4 linked regions of the Homo sapiens genome follow. The protein of the gene in region 1 purifies or fractionates together with the protein of each later gene. This does not show direct contact. Each region holds a gene or a part of one and is shown in the gene's direction. Other genes may lie near its edges.

Region 1 (3,500 bases):
GTGCCACGTTGTTTTCTGCCCTCTTCCCCAGTCTTTTTGATCCTCTGTGCTGGTTCAGGGTGGGGAGGGAGACATTGACAACACTCTGGGAGGCAGGCATCCCTGAAGCAGCAATCCCTGCTGTGTCCCCGGAAAGGCCAGGGTCCCGTGCCATGCTGAGGGATCTCCCATGATCCATCAGGACATAAGTTAAACAAAGCCAAATTGATGTCTTTCCCGTAGGACTTCTCAGAATCTTAAAGACAGTTGTGGATCCCAAAGAGAGGGTTAGAATTGCAGCATTTCCAGACTTACTTGGTCAAGGAATGCCTTTTCACCCTCCTCTCACCCGACTCCCACCCTTAGCTACTAACATTTTGAGGACACTAGTGTTAAGGGGACCAACTCTCCCTGTTTCCCCAGGATTGAGGGGTTTTCTGGGACGTGGAACTTTCAGTACTAAAATTGGGAAAATCCCTGGTCACCTAGGAAATGCCAGTCTAGAGGGAGAAAGAGATTGGTCACTGAGAGGGTGAGTGTTTCAGGATAAAAAGAGAAGGTTGGGAGAGAGGAACAGAACCTAGGGCCCGCTGGAGGTCACTAGATGGGTGAGGGGCACAAGTCCATCAAAAAGGGGCTGGTGAAGGGAGACAGAGGCAGAAACAAACGTGCCTTGGAGATGTCGTAGGTGGACTGACCATGTAAGTGGCAGGAGGGGAGTGCTTCGGCTTGCTCAGGTGACACCGCCATCTAGTGACCACCCAGCAACAGTGTCCTGGGGCTTTTCTGCAGCCAGCTCTTCCCAACTTTCTCCATCCAGGAAAGGGGGGGGGGTTATGGGGGTGTGAAGGGACAAGAGGACCCCCAACACTTTTTCACCTGTCTGATTTTGAAAGCCCCAGGTTTTCGTGTCACATACATGAGCCTTCATGGCCTGCAGCCTAGAGTCCAACTACGTCAGCAGCAGCAAAGGGCAGGTGGTGGTCGCCACACAGCCTCGCATGGACACCCAGGACATGCAGCAGGTCCCAGGGAGGGAGGGGCTGTGGCTGCAGCTGGTGACGTCACACCCACACCACCCCAGCCCCTCCCGCCAAGGCTGCCTCTTCCGCTGTAGGGAGCAGGTTTAAAGGCTCTGGGCTGGAGGCAGGAGGCCAACCCAGGTTCTGGGCCTGGTCTTTACCAAGCCCTAAGGAAGAAGGCATCGCAGCCCTGGGCCTTGGTTCCTCCTGTGTGAAATGGGGAGTTTCGTTGGGCCAACATCTCCCAAAATGCCAAAGATACTTTTTATACTGTGTACGTGTATTCAAAAACACACGTACTTAGTTTGTCAAGTCGATGAGAAACTGGCTGCTGTTGTGCTGCTGCTAACCGTAGGTTTAAAAGTAAAGAAGAGGGAAAAGAGAGCTACAGGCATGATGGAGGTGGTGATGGTGGCTGTGGGCAACGCCTTTGGGACTCACTGCCCTGGCCACTCTAGACCAGCTCCAGCAGGCCAGGGCTACGGTCCTTCAGTCCGAGGTTGGCTCTTCCTCTGTCCCAGAAAACCTGCTCTGGTTTCAATGGACCAAGTGATTCTGCTCCGTGGTGTTTCTACTGGGAAAGGGAGTCACTGATTGACAGGGGCGGGCTGGGTAGGGGGGTGGGCAAAGCCGCCCAAGAAGTCCCTGTCATTGATGACCAGCCTGACAAATGTCCATCCCCTGCTGCCTGTGCCCACCATTCCTGGAGGCTGCCCTCTGGGCTATGCCAGCAGCCTTCATCTGAAGGCTGGCATTAGGAAGGCGTCTTCTGATGTCCACTCTCTGCGGGTTGCTTGCTCCGTCATCCCTTCTGGGCAGCCTCAGCCCTTCTCCCCTCCCCACCGCAGCACTCGTCTCTCAAGAAGGTGTCACAGAGGAGCCCAGTGGCCAAGCTCAGACATCCTTTACCACCTAGAACAGAATGTTCCTTTGTGAATAGGGACAGGCAAGCTGGACGCCCTGACCTCCGCAGCCTGGTTAATCCAGACTTTCTCTCCCTGTTTTCCAAATAGATTTGAAAGTGACCTTAAGGCCATGACCGGCCGAGCTGTGAGCTGGTACTGGAAGGTGATGTGGGCTGGCGTAAGCCCACTGCTGATTGTCAGCCTCTTTGTCTTCTACCTGAGCGACTACATCCTCACGGGGACCCTGAAGTATCAAGCCTGGGACGCCTCCCAGGTATCTACTGTCTCCGTAGGGCTGGCGCTGGGCCCCCATGGCCACTGAAAAGCATGGGCCATTCATTTTCCGAAACCAGGGGACTATTTCCATGGTGTGGGTAGGTTATTTGTCACGACATGGAAATATCACTGAGGTATTTTAGAAATAGTCCAGCACGGAGGAGCTGGGCTTTGAGCTTTTAGGTATGTGCTTCAGTGGGGCGAGAGGAAGGCACTCCTCCAGAGCTTCCCCATCCACCTGTCCCCCGGAAGCTGAGAAAAACTCCCGCTGCAAAGGCGCCAGCTCCTGCCTCCTGAGCAGCGCTCTCCTCCGCGCCTACCGCAGCAGACAGCACTGACAGAGAACGTTGCTACCTTCACGGGAAAGTCCCATTCCAGGCTAAGAGTAGTCGCCTACAGTTTAGGTTCCCTGAAAGTTGCCTTAGACATAAGGTGCTTGATTATTACCATGGTTATTCATTATGGGTAGCTCCAAACAATAGCTCTACACCCACTGGTTCAAGTAGTTACTATTATTCCTAGTTTATGGAAGAAAAAGAAGGTGAGGGCAGTTAGGCTCCTGGCACATTTGCTAGTGAATTGCAGAGCCCGTGGCCCCAGGAGTGAGGACACCGGCCCCACATGCTCTCTGCCCACGTCACATCACCTCCCCATCACGGATGGGCCCTGAGGCCCAGGGGCAGTGCTCAGCAGGTGCTCTCTGCTGACACTCAGTCTCTCCTTTCAGGGCCAGCTCGTGACCAAAGATTACCCGGCCTATGCACTGGCTGTCATCGGGCTGCTTGTGGCCTCCTCCACCATGTGCATCCCCCTGGCGGCCCTGGGGACTTTTGTTCAGCGTCGCCTCAAGAGGGGAGACGCAGACCCCGTGGCCTGAGATGTGGGCTTCCCAGCCGCTCACGGTTTTACAGATACTATTTACAGGCGGAAACTCCTCGGCTGCTTTTTCAAATGCTTAAGCCAGGAGTGCTCAGCCCATCAACTTCCTGAGTGTCTAAAGAAGATGAGGAAGGTGTGCAGGAAGAAAACTCCCTTGGGAGAACGCACACCCTCCCGTGGTGGCTGTTCCTCCCTGTCACCTGCCTCCTCATCATGGAAGGGGGTGGGCTATGAAAGCCGGTCTCAAAGATAACTGCATCCTTCATTCCAGGAAAGCCCTAGAATTAGGGCACATTGCAAACTGAAATATGACTATAATTCTTATGGGACCAAATTTAAGCAATTTTTGTTTTTGGCTGAAGAGACACCAAAATATTAGAGGACAAATATTTTTAGATCCATTTAAGGAGTTTTGAAGTGCCTAAGATGACCTATTTGT
Region 2 (2,733 bases), on another chromosome or scaffold:
GAGGTTCTGCTTGGCCTGACTGCCTGCAATGTGCCAGGAAAACCTCGAGGAACCCATGGCCCTGCAGGAACTGGACTCGAGCAACGGGGCCCTGCTGCCCTTCTACGACCCCGACACCAGTGTGGTCTACGTCTGCGGCAAGGTGGGGCTGGGCAGGGCTGGCGAGGGGCAGGGAAGAGGCGTGCCCAGGTGCTGAGCCCCCTCCCCACACAGGGTGACTCCAGCATCCGGTACTTTGAGATCACAGAGGAGCCTCCCTACATCCACTTCCTGAACACGTTCACCAGCAAGGAGCCGCAGCGGGGTATGGGCAGCATGCCCAAGCGGGGCCTGGAGGTCAGCAAGTGCGAGATCGCCCGGTAAGAGGGCTACCGAGGCCACTCGGGGATAGGGGCATCTAAGGTGAGAGGTCAGGTCATTGGAGGCTGCTTGGGAGCAGGAAACCTTGCGCCAGGGAGGCCCGGCGGGCCATGAGAACTGTCACGAGGCAGCCCGTGTGGGGGTCTAGCCACCTTAGGGGTCGGCCTGCGGAGGTCCTGGGGTGAGGACTGGAAGTGGAGGATGCCAGGAGAGCTGGCGGTGGGTGGGGGGGGCGGTGAGGGTTCCACCCGTGGCTCCTCCTTGCATCCCCAGGTTCTACAAACTGCATGAGCGCAAGTGTGAGCCCATCGTCATGACTGTGCCAAGAAAGGTGAGGCCGCCCGTCCCTCGGCTCACTTGGCCCTTTCTCCAGCAAGCGGGCCATGCAGTTGTGACCAGGGCGAGGCCTGTGAATGGAACATGACCTAGTATGGTTTGTGGGCAGTGAGCTGGACAGATGCCAGCTTGCCCTTGTACCAGCCAGCTGTTGGGCTGTGCCAGTCAGGGGGCAAGTGGGGATGAGACAGAGGGTGAGCAGGGGCCCTGCTCTGGATGAGCCACAGGAGAAGGACACCAGGCAGTCAGGGAGGGAGTGGCAGCCACACAGATCTTCCTGAAGGAGGCAGGACCCATAACACAGCTGGGGTGGCGCCATCCACTGGGGGCAGGCCAGGCGAAGGGCACAGTGGTGGGAATGGAGAGAGGAACAAGGAGTCTGGCTGCAGTGGGGAATCCCATGAAGAGGGGACCGGGCCACATGTGGCTTGGCCTCAGATGCCAAGAGCCTCGGACACGCTTCCATGATTCTCTGGCCAGCATTTGCCGACTGCTCTTTCAACATGCCAGGCACATTTTGGGGAGTGGAGCTGAGCTGATAGGGCCTGCTCCAGGAGCTCACAGTCCATGGGCCCCAGAATCCCATAAAGCCACATAGTGGCCCCTGTGCCTTGCAGGGGAAGGTGATGACAGGGGCCTTGCTCAGAAGGGTGGGAAAGCTTCCGAGGGAGCTGTTGATGGTGTCCAGAAAGGAAGTTAAAGGCCAGATTTGAGCTTTCCAGGCCGTGGGAGAATGGGTTAACAGAGTGCAAGCCTGGAGGCCAGGGGAGGGATGAGGGGACCCTGATGGGGCCTCCTAACTGATCCTGACCTCCCCGGCCCCCTGCCCAGTCGGACCTCTTCCAGGATGATCTGTACCCCGACACAGCCGGGCCCGAGGCAGCCCTGGAGGCTGAGGAGTGGGTGAGCGGGCGGGATGCCGACCCGATCCTCATCTCACTGCGGGAGGCCTACGTGCCCAGCAAGCAGCGGGACCTGAAGATCAGCCGGCGCAACGTGTTGTCTGACAGCCGGCCCGCCATGGCCCCGGGCTCCTCCCACCTAGGGGCCCCCGCCTCCACCACCACTGCTGCTGATGCCACCCCCAGCGGCAGCCTGGCCAGAGCCGGGGTATGCACGCGCAGGCAGGGGTGGTGCTGGGAGCCCCAGGTGTGGCCCTGGCCTGCTGTGTGGGCTTCAGCCATTCGCTGTCCCTCTCTGGGGTAGTGGTGGGTTTGGGAGGGCTATGGCTTAGCAGCCCCTGACCACCGCCCCCTACCCCTGCTTCATGTCCCCACAGGAGGCTGGGAAGCTGGAGGAGGTGATGCAGGAGCTGCGGGCCCTGAGGGCGCTGGTCAAGGAGCAGGGCGACCGCATCTGCCGCCTGGAGGAGCAGCTGGGCCGCATGGAGAACGGGGATGCGTAGGGCCACAGCCACACGCCACCTTCATCTCCTCCGCCGCCCCCTTCCCACTCAGCTTCTGCCAGCGGGTCGCACCGGGCTAGCTGGCTGCCCAGAGCCTCTGAGGCAGCGCAGGGGTCAGTTCCCACCCCCACCCGTCCCAGGCCCAGGCCGAAGCCAGCGCCCAGCTTTCCTCACTGTTCCTGTGGAGGATGTCTACGCCCAGGCGAGCTCCTCGACCTCTGAGGGACCATCTCCCCGACCACTGCCCAGCCCTCTGCTCCCTCCCCAGAGGAGGCGGGAGGGTGGGCTCTATATTTTCATTCCAAATAAAATTCTCTTTCTAAAAGCCAGGCTGACCTGCTGCTGCAAGGGTGGGGCTGAGAAGTCTGGAAACCTGGAGACAGAGGATGTCACAGGAGTCACACATGTGCAGAAGGTCTGGGGGCAGTGAGCAGCCCCACAGGCATTGCTCCCCTGGATTGTCAGGCAGGGAAACTGAGGCAGAAGACCTGAGAACACATGCAAGGCTGCATCCAGCTTCAAGTTGGTGCTGCTTCTTCCTTGGAGGACAGGCCCGGCAGCCCAGCCTCCTCCAGAGAGACTGGGGAGGGTCTGGTGTGGACCAGGGGTCCTGCAGCAGGGAGGGGCAGGTG
Region 3 (3,500 bases), on another chromosome or scaffold:
TCATTCTGACATTTAATTTTCTGTTCTATGGATTTTTTGGTTAGCACAGGTCTACATAACCATTTGAATCATCAAATACAACTGAGGCAACTTGCCTCTGTTATTCTTTATAGCCAGGACTACTTAAATTGTTGCTGCGTTCAGTAAAACAATTGCTAAATGCCACCAGAAATTTGAAAGCCGGAGATCCTTTAAATGTTGCCTTCCTATGTTCAAATTTCCAGGTGCCTGTTTGCGGGAGCATGGGCTGCCTTGTCTGCCTGTCTTCCTGAACGGAAACACTAAATGTTTCTAGACTACCCTGTTTGCTTACATAGCCAAGTAATGCATTATTCATCTTACCTGCCACAATGCAAAAGCTATTTTTGCAAAGGGAATGTAATTTCGTTCTCTTCTTTCTTATAGTTTACTTCCTAGAAAAAGGCCTGGGTGGTGTAGTGGCCTTGAAAAAAAGGTGGTTAACCATTGGCACCTTATTACATTTGTCATGGGTTTCACATAATTTTCACGTATCCACCCACATCTAGATACTGAGTTGTGACTTTGTCATCCTCAACAGAATACTAAGTATAGATTGCTAAATCATTGGTGTACATTTTTTATTACTCATCTTGTTTCTTTTTACAGAATTCAACAAGTCCACCACTTAAGCTCTCAAATGTGGAACGGATTACAAATGTACAAATTTTGATTTTATTTTGTATCTTAATTGCCATGTCTCTTGTCTGTTCTGTGGGCTCAGCCATTTGGAATCGAAGGCATTCTGGAAAAGACTGGTATCTCAATCTAAACTGTAAGCAATAAAGTGCTTACTGCACTTTTTTAGATTAAGACATGTATTTGTTTCACAATTGATCTTGATTTACTTTATTTCGTATTGTTTCTAAAAAGACCTTGTTGCCAAGATAGCTGGACATTTGATCTTTATTTTTCAGTGAGATTTCTAGCAAGTGTAAGTAAAATTTGGGAATCCTAAAATTTCAGAATCCTTAAAAACATAATGAGCACTCTATAGTGGTATAAAATGTTCACTAAGTATAGTCATTTATTATATATATCAACGAAAACTATTCCTTAAAAATATTTTTAACATAGGTGGTTAACTATATGGTAAAGAAAGTAGATTGACCATGTGTGGATATAACAAAACATATATATTTAAATATATATTGTATGTATTTATAAATATATAAAATATTTTAAATATATTTAAATAATATAAATATTTAAATATATTTTATCTTAAATAAAATATACTTTGTTTATATTTTATTTAAATAAAAGTACCAAAAAGTGGTTTATATGGTTTAAAAATGTTTAAACCCAATGTATTTTCATTTGAACTCAGTAATGTGGTAAGTCCTATATTAAATGTTATCTTAGAGAAGGTGCTAGTAAATAGTTTTCCTTTAGAGCATTTATCCTTTTATTATTGTGATATTAATGTACCACCCCTGGATATTTCTGTCAAATGAGTTTACATTTTCATTTCATGAGTACTTAGCCAATAAAGACTTAACTTCCAAAAGTGTGAAAGCAAATTCTAGTACAATCACATAGCAAAAACTGGTATTTTTAAATTTTTTTTATTATATTGATTTATCTTTGCAGCAATTCCAAGTTGTTTTTATAGTTACTGATTTATTATTTCAGTATCAGAACTGTTACTACCATCAGTCTGTTTCTTTGTATACTTTATAATTGTATCTGGTATAGCAGTTTTATTTTCATTTTGAGGAAGAAGAGTATAATGTACCTAGGAGAATAATTTACCTAGGACTGAATATTACTCATATAGTTTGGATTGTTTTTGCTGCTGCTGTCTTGTTTGCTTTTAAAGTATGCTTTAAATTGGAAATACTCTTAAGAATTTATATAAAAGTGATTCTACCCAATTGAGATTTTATATTTATAAACCCTCAGTGCTATCCCTGATGTCTCTAAACTTTGTGTTTGGAAGAGGGTTTGCAATATTTGACAGTCCTTTCACTGTCTTAGTACTTTTATACAGCTCTTACCTGGATTAACAACATATTGAACACAATGCAATTCTATCTTGAAGGATGTACTTGAGAATTAGGATAGATTATCAGCAAAGTGTTCCTCCCAAATTATCAAATAAGCTGCGTAGTATGGAAAACTTGTATTATGCTAATTTGGGGTCAATGCAAATAAAATATAAAACTGTAAATGACGTTCTTCCTGCCTCTCCCAACAGATGGTGGCGCTAGTAATTTTGGACTGAATTTCTTGACCTTCATCATCCTTTTCAACAATCTCATTCCTATCAGCTTATTGGTTACATTAGAAGTTGTGAAATTTACCCAGGCATACTTCATAAATTGGGTAAATATGAATTATGATTGTTATCACCCTACAAAATAATTTTGTCCTTAGGATATTTTGATATCTCAGGAGAAAAAAGGTTTTAATTATATCTACCGTTTCTTGACCACAGTATCAGATTTTTGAACCTAATTTGTTGCAAAGTTCCTCATCTCAGAATCACACAAGTTTACAGGCCAGACATTGTAGGGAAAATGGGTCTCTAGTTCAGGAAACCTATGGTGGTCGTGGGAGATGGAGAACCATGAGTTTGGAGTTAAGTGTCTGAATTATGGTTCTAGTATTATAATTTACTAGGTGTATCAACTTTCTCAAGTCACTTATTTTGAAACTTATTTTCTTGAACACAATCATAGGGATAATATGCCTTACCTACATCTTACAGTGGTTTTATGGACTAAGGAATCTCTTGACATAGCAAAGAGCTTTGAAAATAATCAATCACTATACAAATAATACTGTAATTCTTACTGATATCAACCAGATTATCATGTTATATCATGTTATTTTCTACACTGTAAACAATTTTAGCTTCACTTGAATTTTTCTTCATAATTTTTCTCTTGAATATTGTTAAATATTAGAAAAATGTTGGACATCTACTTTCTAAATGTTTTTAAATGTCTTAGTTTTATTTTTATTAAAGTTAAAATTAATGAATTTATCTAAATTAAATCTGTGGGCCTAATCTGCCAGAAAATTTAATTTTTCTTTTATTTTGAGAAACTTTGTGTTATTTTTGATGTTTCTTTCTTTTTCAATCATTGTAAAGTCTTTCAATATGAACAATATTAGGGTTTCGAAAAATATGACATACTTTTGTAACTGCTCATTATCTTCTTGTAGCGAATTATCTACCTAAACTGTCAATCTCTTAATTCATTGGTAAGAAATCAGTGTGATTTAGAAATCTAAAATGAGCTGCAGGTGTAGCTCACTTCATGCAGGAGATATATGGCTGAAAAATTACGTAATAGGATATGTACAAATATAAGTAAGACTTATTGAAGTTTCTTATAGCAATAATAGGGTAACTCATTGTGAGAATCACATAAGTAAGCTAGATAATCACTTTGTTGTTTTGATTTTCAAAAATAATATCTTTCAAAGAATTATATAATTTTAGTATTGGATGAACCCAGCAGGCTTATGCT
Region 4 (3,500 bases), on another chromosome or scaffold:
GTGAGCCGAGGCCATTGCACTCCACCTGAGCGGCAAGAGTGAGACTCTGTCTTCAAAAAAAAAAAAAAAAGGAAAAAAAAGAGTGTTATTCAAAAACCTCTTTAGGCCAGGCGCGGTGGCTCACACCTGTAATCCCAGCACTTTGGGAGGCTGAGGCAGGCAGATCACTTGAGGTCAGGAGTTCAAGACCACTCTGGCCAACATGGCGAAACCCCATCTCTACTAAAAATAAAAAAATTACCCAGTCATGGTGGCAGGCACCTGTAATCCCAGCTACTCGGGAGGCTGAGGCAGGAGAATTGCTTGAACCCAGGAGGCGGAGGTTGCGGTGAGCCGAGATCGGCGCCACTGCACTCCAGCCTGGGCGACAAGAGCGAAACTCCGTCTCAAAAAAAAAAACCAAAAAACAAAAAAAAAACTTTGATTAAAATGGGTAGTTCTCCAAAAAGGAATTCTGTGAGTTCAAGCTCTTTTTTTTAACACAAGTGTCTTTTTTGTTTTGATTTTCTCTTTTCTTTTTTTTTTAATATAAGATTCTGCCTTAGATTAACTTTGAAAATTACCTCCTCCTGATTGATTAGACTGTGTTAGGGACGTTATTTAGGCCACTCATTTATCTACTTCCCTCACCTGTCTCTCCCCATCTTTCCTTCTGTTGTTATTGTGTTTTTTAACATGAGGGTTTTGGGGGAAGCTAAAGAGAAGACTGCAAGATGAGTGTTTTCACAGGGCGAAGCCCCTGTGGTTGGCTGCTGGAAGGTTTCTCAAGGGCTTTTTATATCCAACAGACTGAAGGTCCAGAATTAAGTCCAGGAGTAATTGAACTTCAAGATAAGTTACAAAATGAGATAGAAAGGTGCATCTAATAGTTATCTGGGAAAGGTGTTAAACAAAGCCATGATTAATGGTAGTTAATAAGTTATGAAGGTACCAAAGAATTCTTATGAAGTAAGTTTTTTGAAATGTGTTCTGTGTCATCATTAAGCTAAGACTACTTGGCAGATGTCTTACAGTCTGGACTACGTAACCTTGACCAAGATTCCTCATCACCCTAGATTGCAGCATTGTGTCTTCAGGGATGAATAAACCACTTGAAAGTGAAAACAACATCATACCATGATAGGAGGCCAGGTGCAGTGGCTCACACCTGTAATCCCACCACTTTGGGAGGCTGAGACAGGAGAATCACTTGAGGCCAGGAGTGTGAGACCAGCCTGGGCAACAAAGTGAGACCCCCATCTCTATAAAAATAAATTTTTAAATTAGCCAGGCATGGTGGCATGCACTTGTAGTCCCAGCTACTTGGGAGGCTGAGGCAGGAAGATTGCTTAAACCCAGGAGTTCAAGGTTACAGTGAGCTGTGATCATGCCACTGCACTCCAGCCTGCACAGCAGAGTGAGACCCTGTCTCTAAAATAAAATGACAGGAGACATCACATTAGCCTAAAGGTTAACTTCTGGACACCTTGGCTGCTAAGTCAAAAAGTCCAGAAAGCCACCCTTGCTTTTCACTACTTTCAGAATAAACAGACCTCCGCTTCCTTTGTAGCTTAGTGGGTGATTGGATTCTAAACTGGCCACTCTATAAGAGAAGACAATTTGAACTAAAGCTGTTGCTAATAAATGGTTATATCTACTGCAATGAAGAGGAAACAAAAACATGGAGTCTGTTGAAAAGTGGCTTGATTCCCTCAGTCAACTAATTGATAAGTATTTGTTAAGCATTAACAATGGTTCTGGGTGCCATGAGCTATACTACAGAAATATAAATCTAATAAAAATATATCCTCTGCCTTATAAGTAGATTAAGACCAGTTAGAGAGAGGAAGCTTAAGGTAAGTTAAATAATAGTGACCAATGCAGGGTACTATCTAATTCATTACAAAATTATGTGGAATTTTTTTTTGTTTTTTGACGGAGTCTCACTCTGTCCCCCAGGCTGGAGTGCAGTGGCGTGATCTTCTACCTCACTGAGTTCAACTCAGTGAACTCACTGCAACCTCCGCCTCCTGAGTTCAAGCGATTCTCCTGCCTCAGCCTCCTGAGTAGTCAGGATTACAGGCATGCGCCACCACGCCTGGCTAATTTTTGTATTTTTAGTAGAGACAAGGTTTCACCATGTTGGTCAGGCTGATCTCGAACTCCTGACCTTGTGATCCGCCCGCCTCGGCCTCCCAAAGTGCTGGGATTACAGGTGTGAGCCACTATCTGGAATTTTTTAAGCACTAATTGGCTGGAGAATGTACTTTAGGAGTTTGGAAAGAACAAGAGGAGAATTAAGGCAATGCCATGCAAAGGGACACCCTTAAACAGGTATGGAAGGCAAGTAGACATGGCGCATTCGAGGGACTGGGTAGAGAGAGAAGCTGGGTGGGACCAGTGGTTCTGTCCTGGTGAGTAGTGGGAGTGCTGTTGGCCCTGCGAGGCCAGGTCATCGAAACTGGGCACAGCTGTTTAGGCCGTCCACTAAACCTTCACCATCCAGTACAGCAGCCAGTAGCCATGTATAAATACAGCCATTTAGTTACATGTGGCTGTTGAATGCATGAAGTGTGTCTCTTTCCAACTGATGTGCTATAAGTGCAAAATACACATTGTATTTCAAGACCAGTGCGAAAAAGAATGTAAAATTCCTCACTAATCACTTTAACTAATCACATGATGATGTGAAATTATTTTGGATATATTGGGTTAAATGAAATATGTTATTAAAATTAACTTGTTTTTACTTTTTAAAATGTGACTACTAGAAAACTTTGAATTACCGACGGGACTCACGTTACATTTCTCTTCAACAGTATTACGCTAGATTAAAATAAGTTGTCATGAGTTGTTGAACAAGGGGAAGGAACTGACAAGAAGTGATACCCGAACCTAGAAATGCCTCTGGGAGAGGCAGAGCAGAGTTGCTTCCCTGGATACATTGGCACCTTGTCAACAATTTCTTTTAAGGCAACACATTGACATGGCAGGAGTTCATGATTTAAAAAAAAATTTTTTTTAAAAAGAGAGCTGTGTGAAAGAAAGCAAGGCTGTTAAGGCTGTGAGTCACATAGAGGATTTAGCCATTGGGTGGTACCTTTCCTTTTATATAAACACCCACCAACAGTGCAGACCCTCTCCAGCCCCTCCCCCTCCCCACCCTCACTGCCATACACTGCCGTGCTTCTTCCCACTAGTGTGGCCGTCTGAATCTTCTCTTTAGCATCACTGACAAGTGGTGGCTTAACATCTGTGTGAATGCCTCCAATGATGAGGAACTCGGTACCTCACGAGGAAGTGTGTCCCATTCACTCAGTATTGTTACCAAAAATACTTTCTTCCCGTCCTTTCCTCCCTGACAATGCTTAAAAAGAGGGTTAGAGTTCCTGGATCCTTGATTCCAGGTAACAAGAGGGGCTTATCATTGTTTTTTAAAAACAAAAAGAGGCCGGGTGCAGTGGCTAACACCTGTAATCCCAGCACTTTGGGAGGCTGAGGAGGGTGATGTCACCTGAGGT

The links.
Region 2: the proteins of SLC6A20 (region 1) and CORO1B purify together in Homo sapiens (affinity purification with mass spectrometry; one large-scale study listed by BioGRID and IntAct). This does not show direct contact.
Region 3: the proteins of SLC6A20 (region 1) and ATP8A1 purify together in Homo sapiens (affinity purification with mass spectrometry; 2 studies listed by BioGRID and IntAct, with this or other methods). This does not show direct contact.
Region 4: the proteins of SLC6A20 (region 1) and CNNM1 purify together in Homo sapiens (affinity purification with mass spectrometry; one large-scale study listed by BioGRID and IntAct). This does not show direct contact.

What each region holds. Positions count from the first base shown.
Region 1 is NC_000003.12:45,758,537-45,762,036, reverse strand, and holds part of SLC6A20 (sodium- and chloride-dependent transporter XTRP3), read left to right. Parts: intron 1-2,014; coding exon 2,015-2,180; intron 2,181-2,909; coding exon 2,910-3,059; 3' UTR 3,060-3,500. UniProt on the Homo sapiens protein: Mediates the Na(+)- and Cl(-)-dependent uptake of imino acids such as L-proline, N-methyl-L-proline and pipecolate as well as N-methylated amino acids.
Region 2 is NC_000011.10:67,437,744-67,440,476, reverse strand, and holds part of CORO1B (coronin-1B), read left to right. Parts: intron 1-37; coding exon 38-142; intron 143-213; coding exon 214-359; intron 360-633; coding exon 634-691; intron 692-1,527; coding exon 1,528-1,806; intron 1,807-1,975; coding exon 1,976-2,101; 3' UTR 2,102-2,733. UniProt on the Homo sapiens protein: Regulates leading edge dynamics and cell motility in fibroblasts. May be involved in cytokinesis and signal transduction.
Region 3 is NC_000004.12:42,577,106-42,580,605, reverse strand, and holds part of ATP8A1 (phospholipid-transporting ATPase IA), read left to right. Parts: intron 1-627; coding exon 628-793; intron 794-2,218; coding exon 2,219-2,346; intron 2,347-3,500. UniProt on the Homo sapiens protein: Catalytic component of a P4-ATPase flippase complex which catalyzes the hydrolysis of ATP coupled to the transport of aminophospholipids from the outer to the inner leaflet of various membranes and ensures the maintenance of asymmetric distribution of phospholipids.
Region 4 is NC_000010.11:99,381,356-99,384,855, forward strand, and holds part of CNNM1 (metal transporter CNNM1), read left to right. Parts: intron 1-3,500. UniProt on the Homo sapiens protein: Probable metal transporter.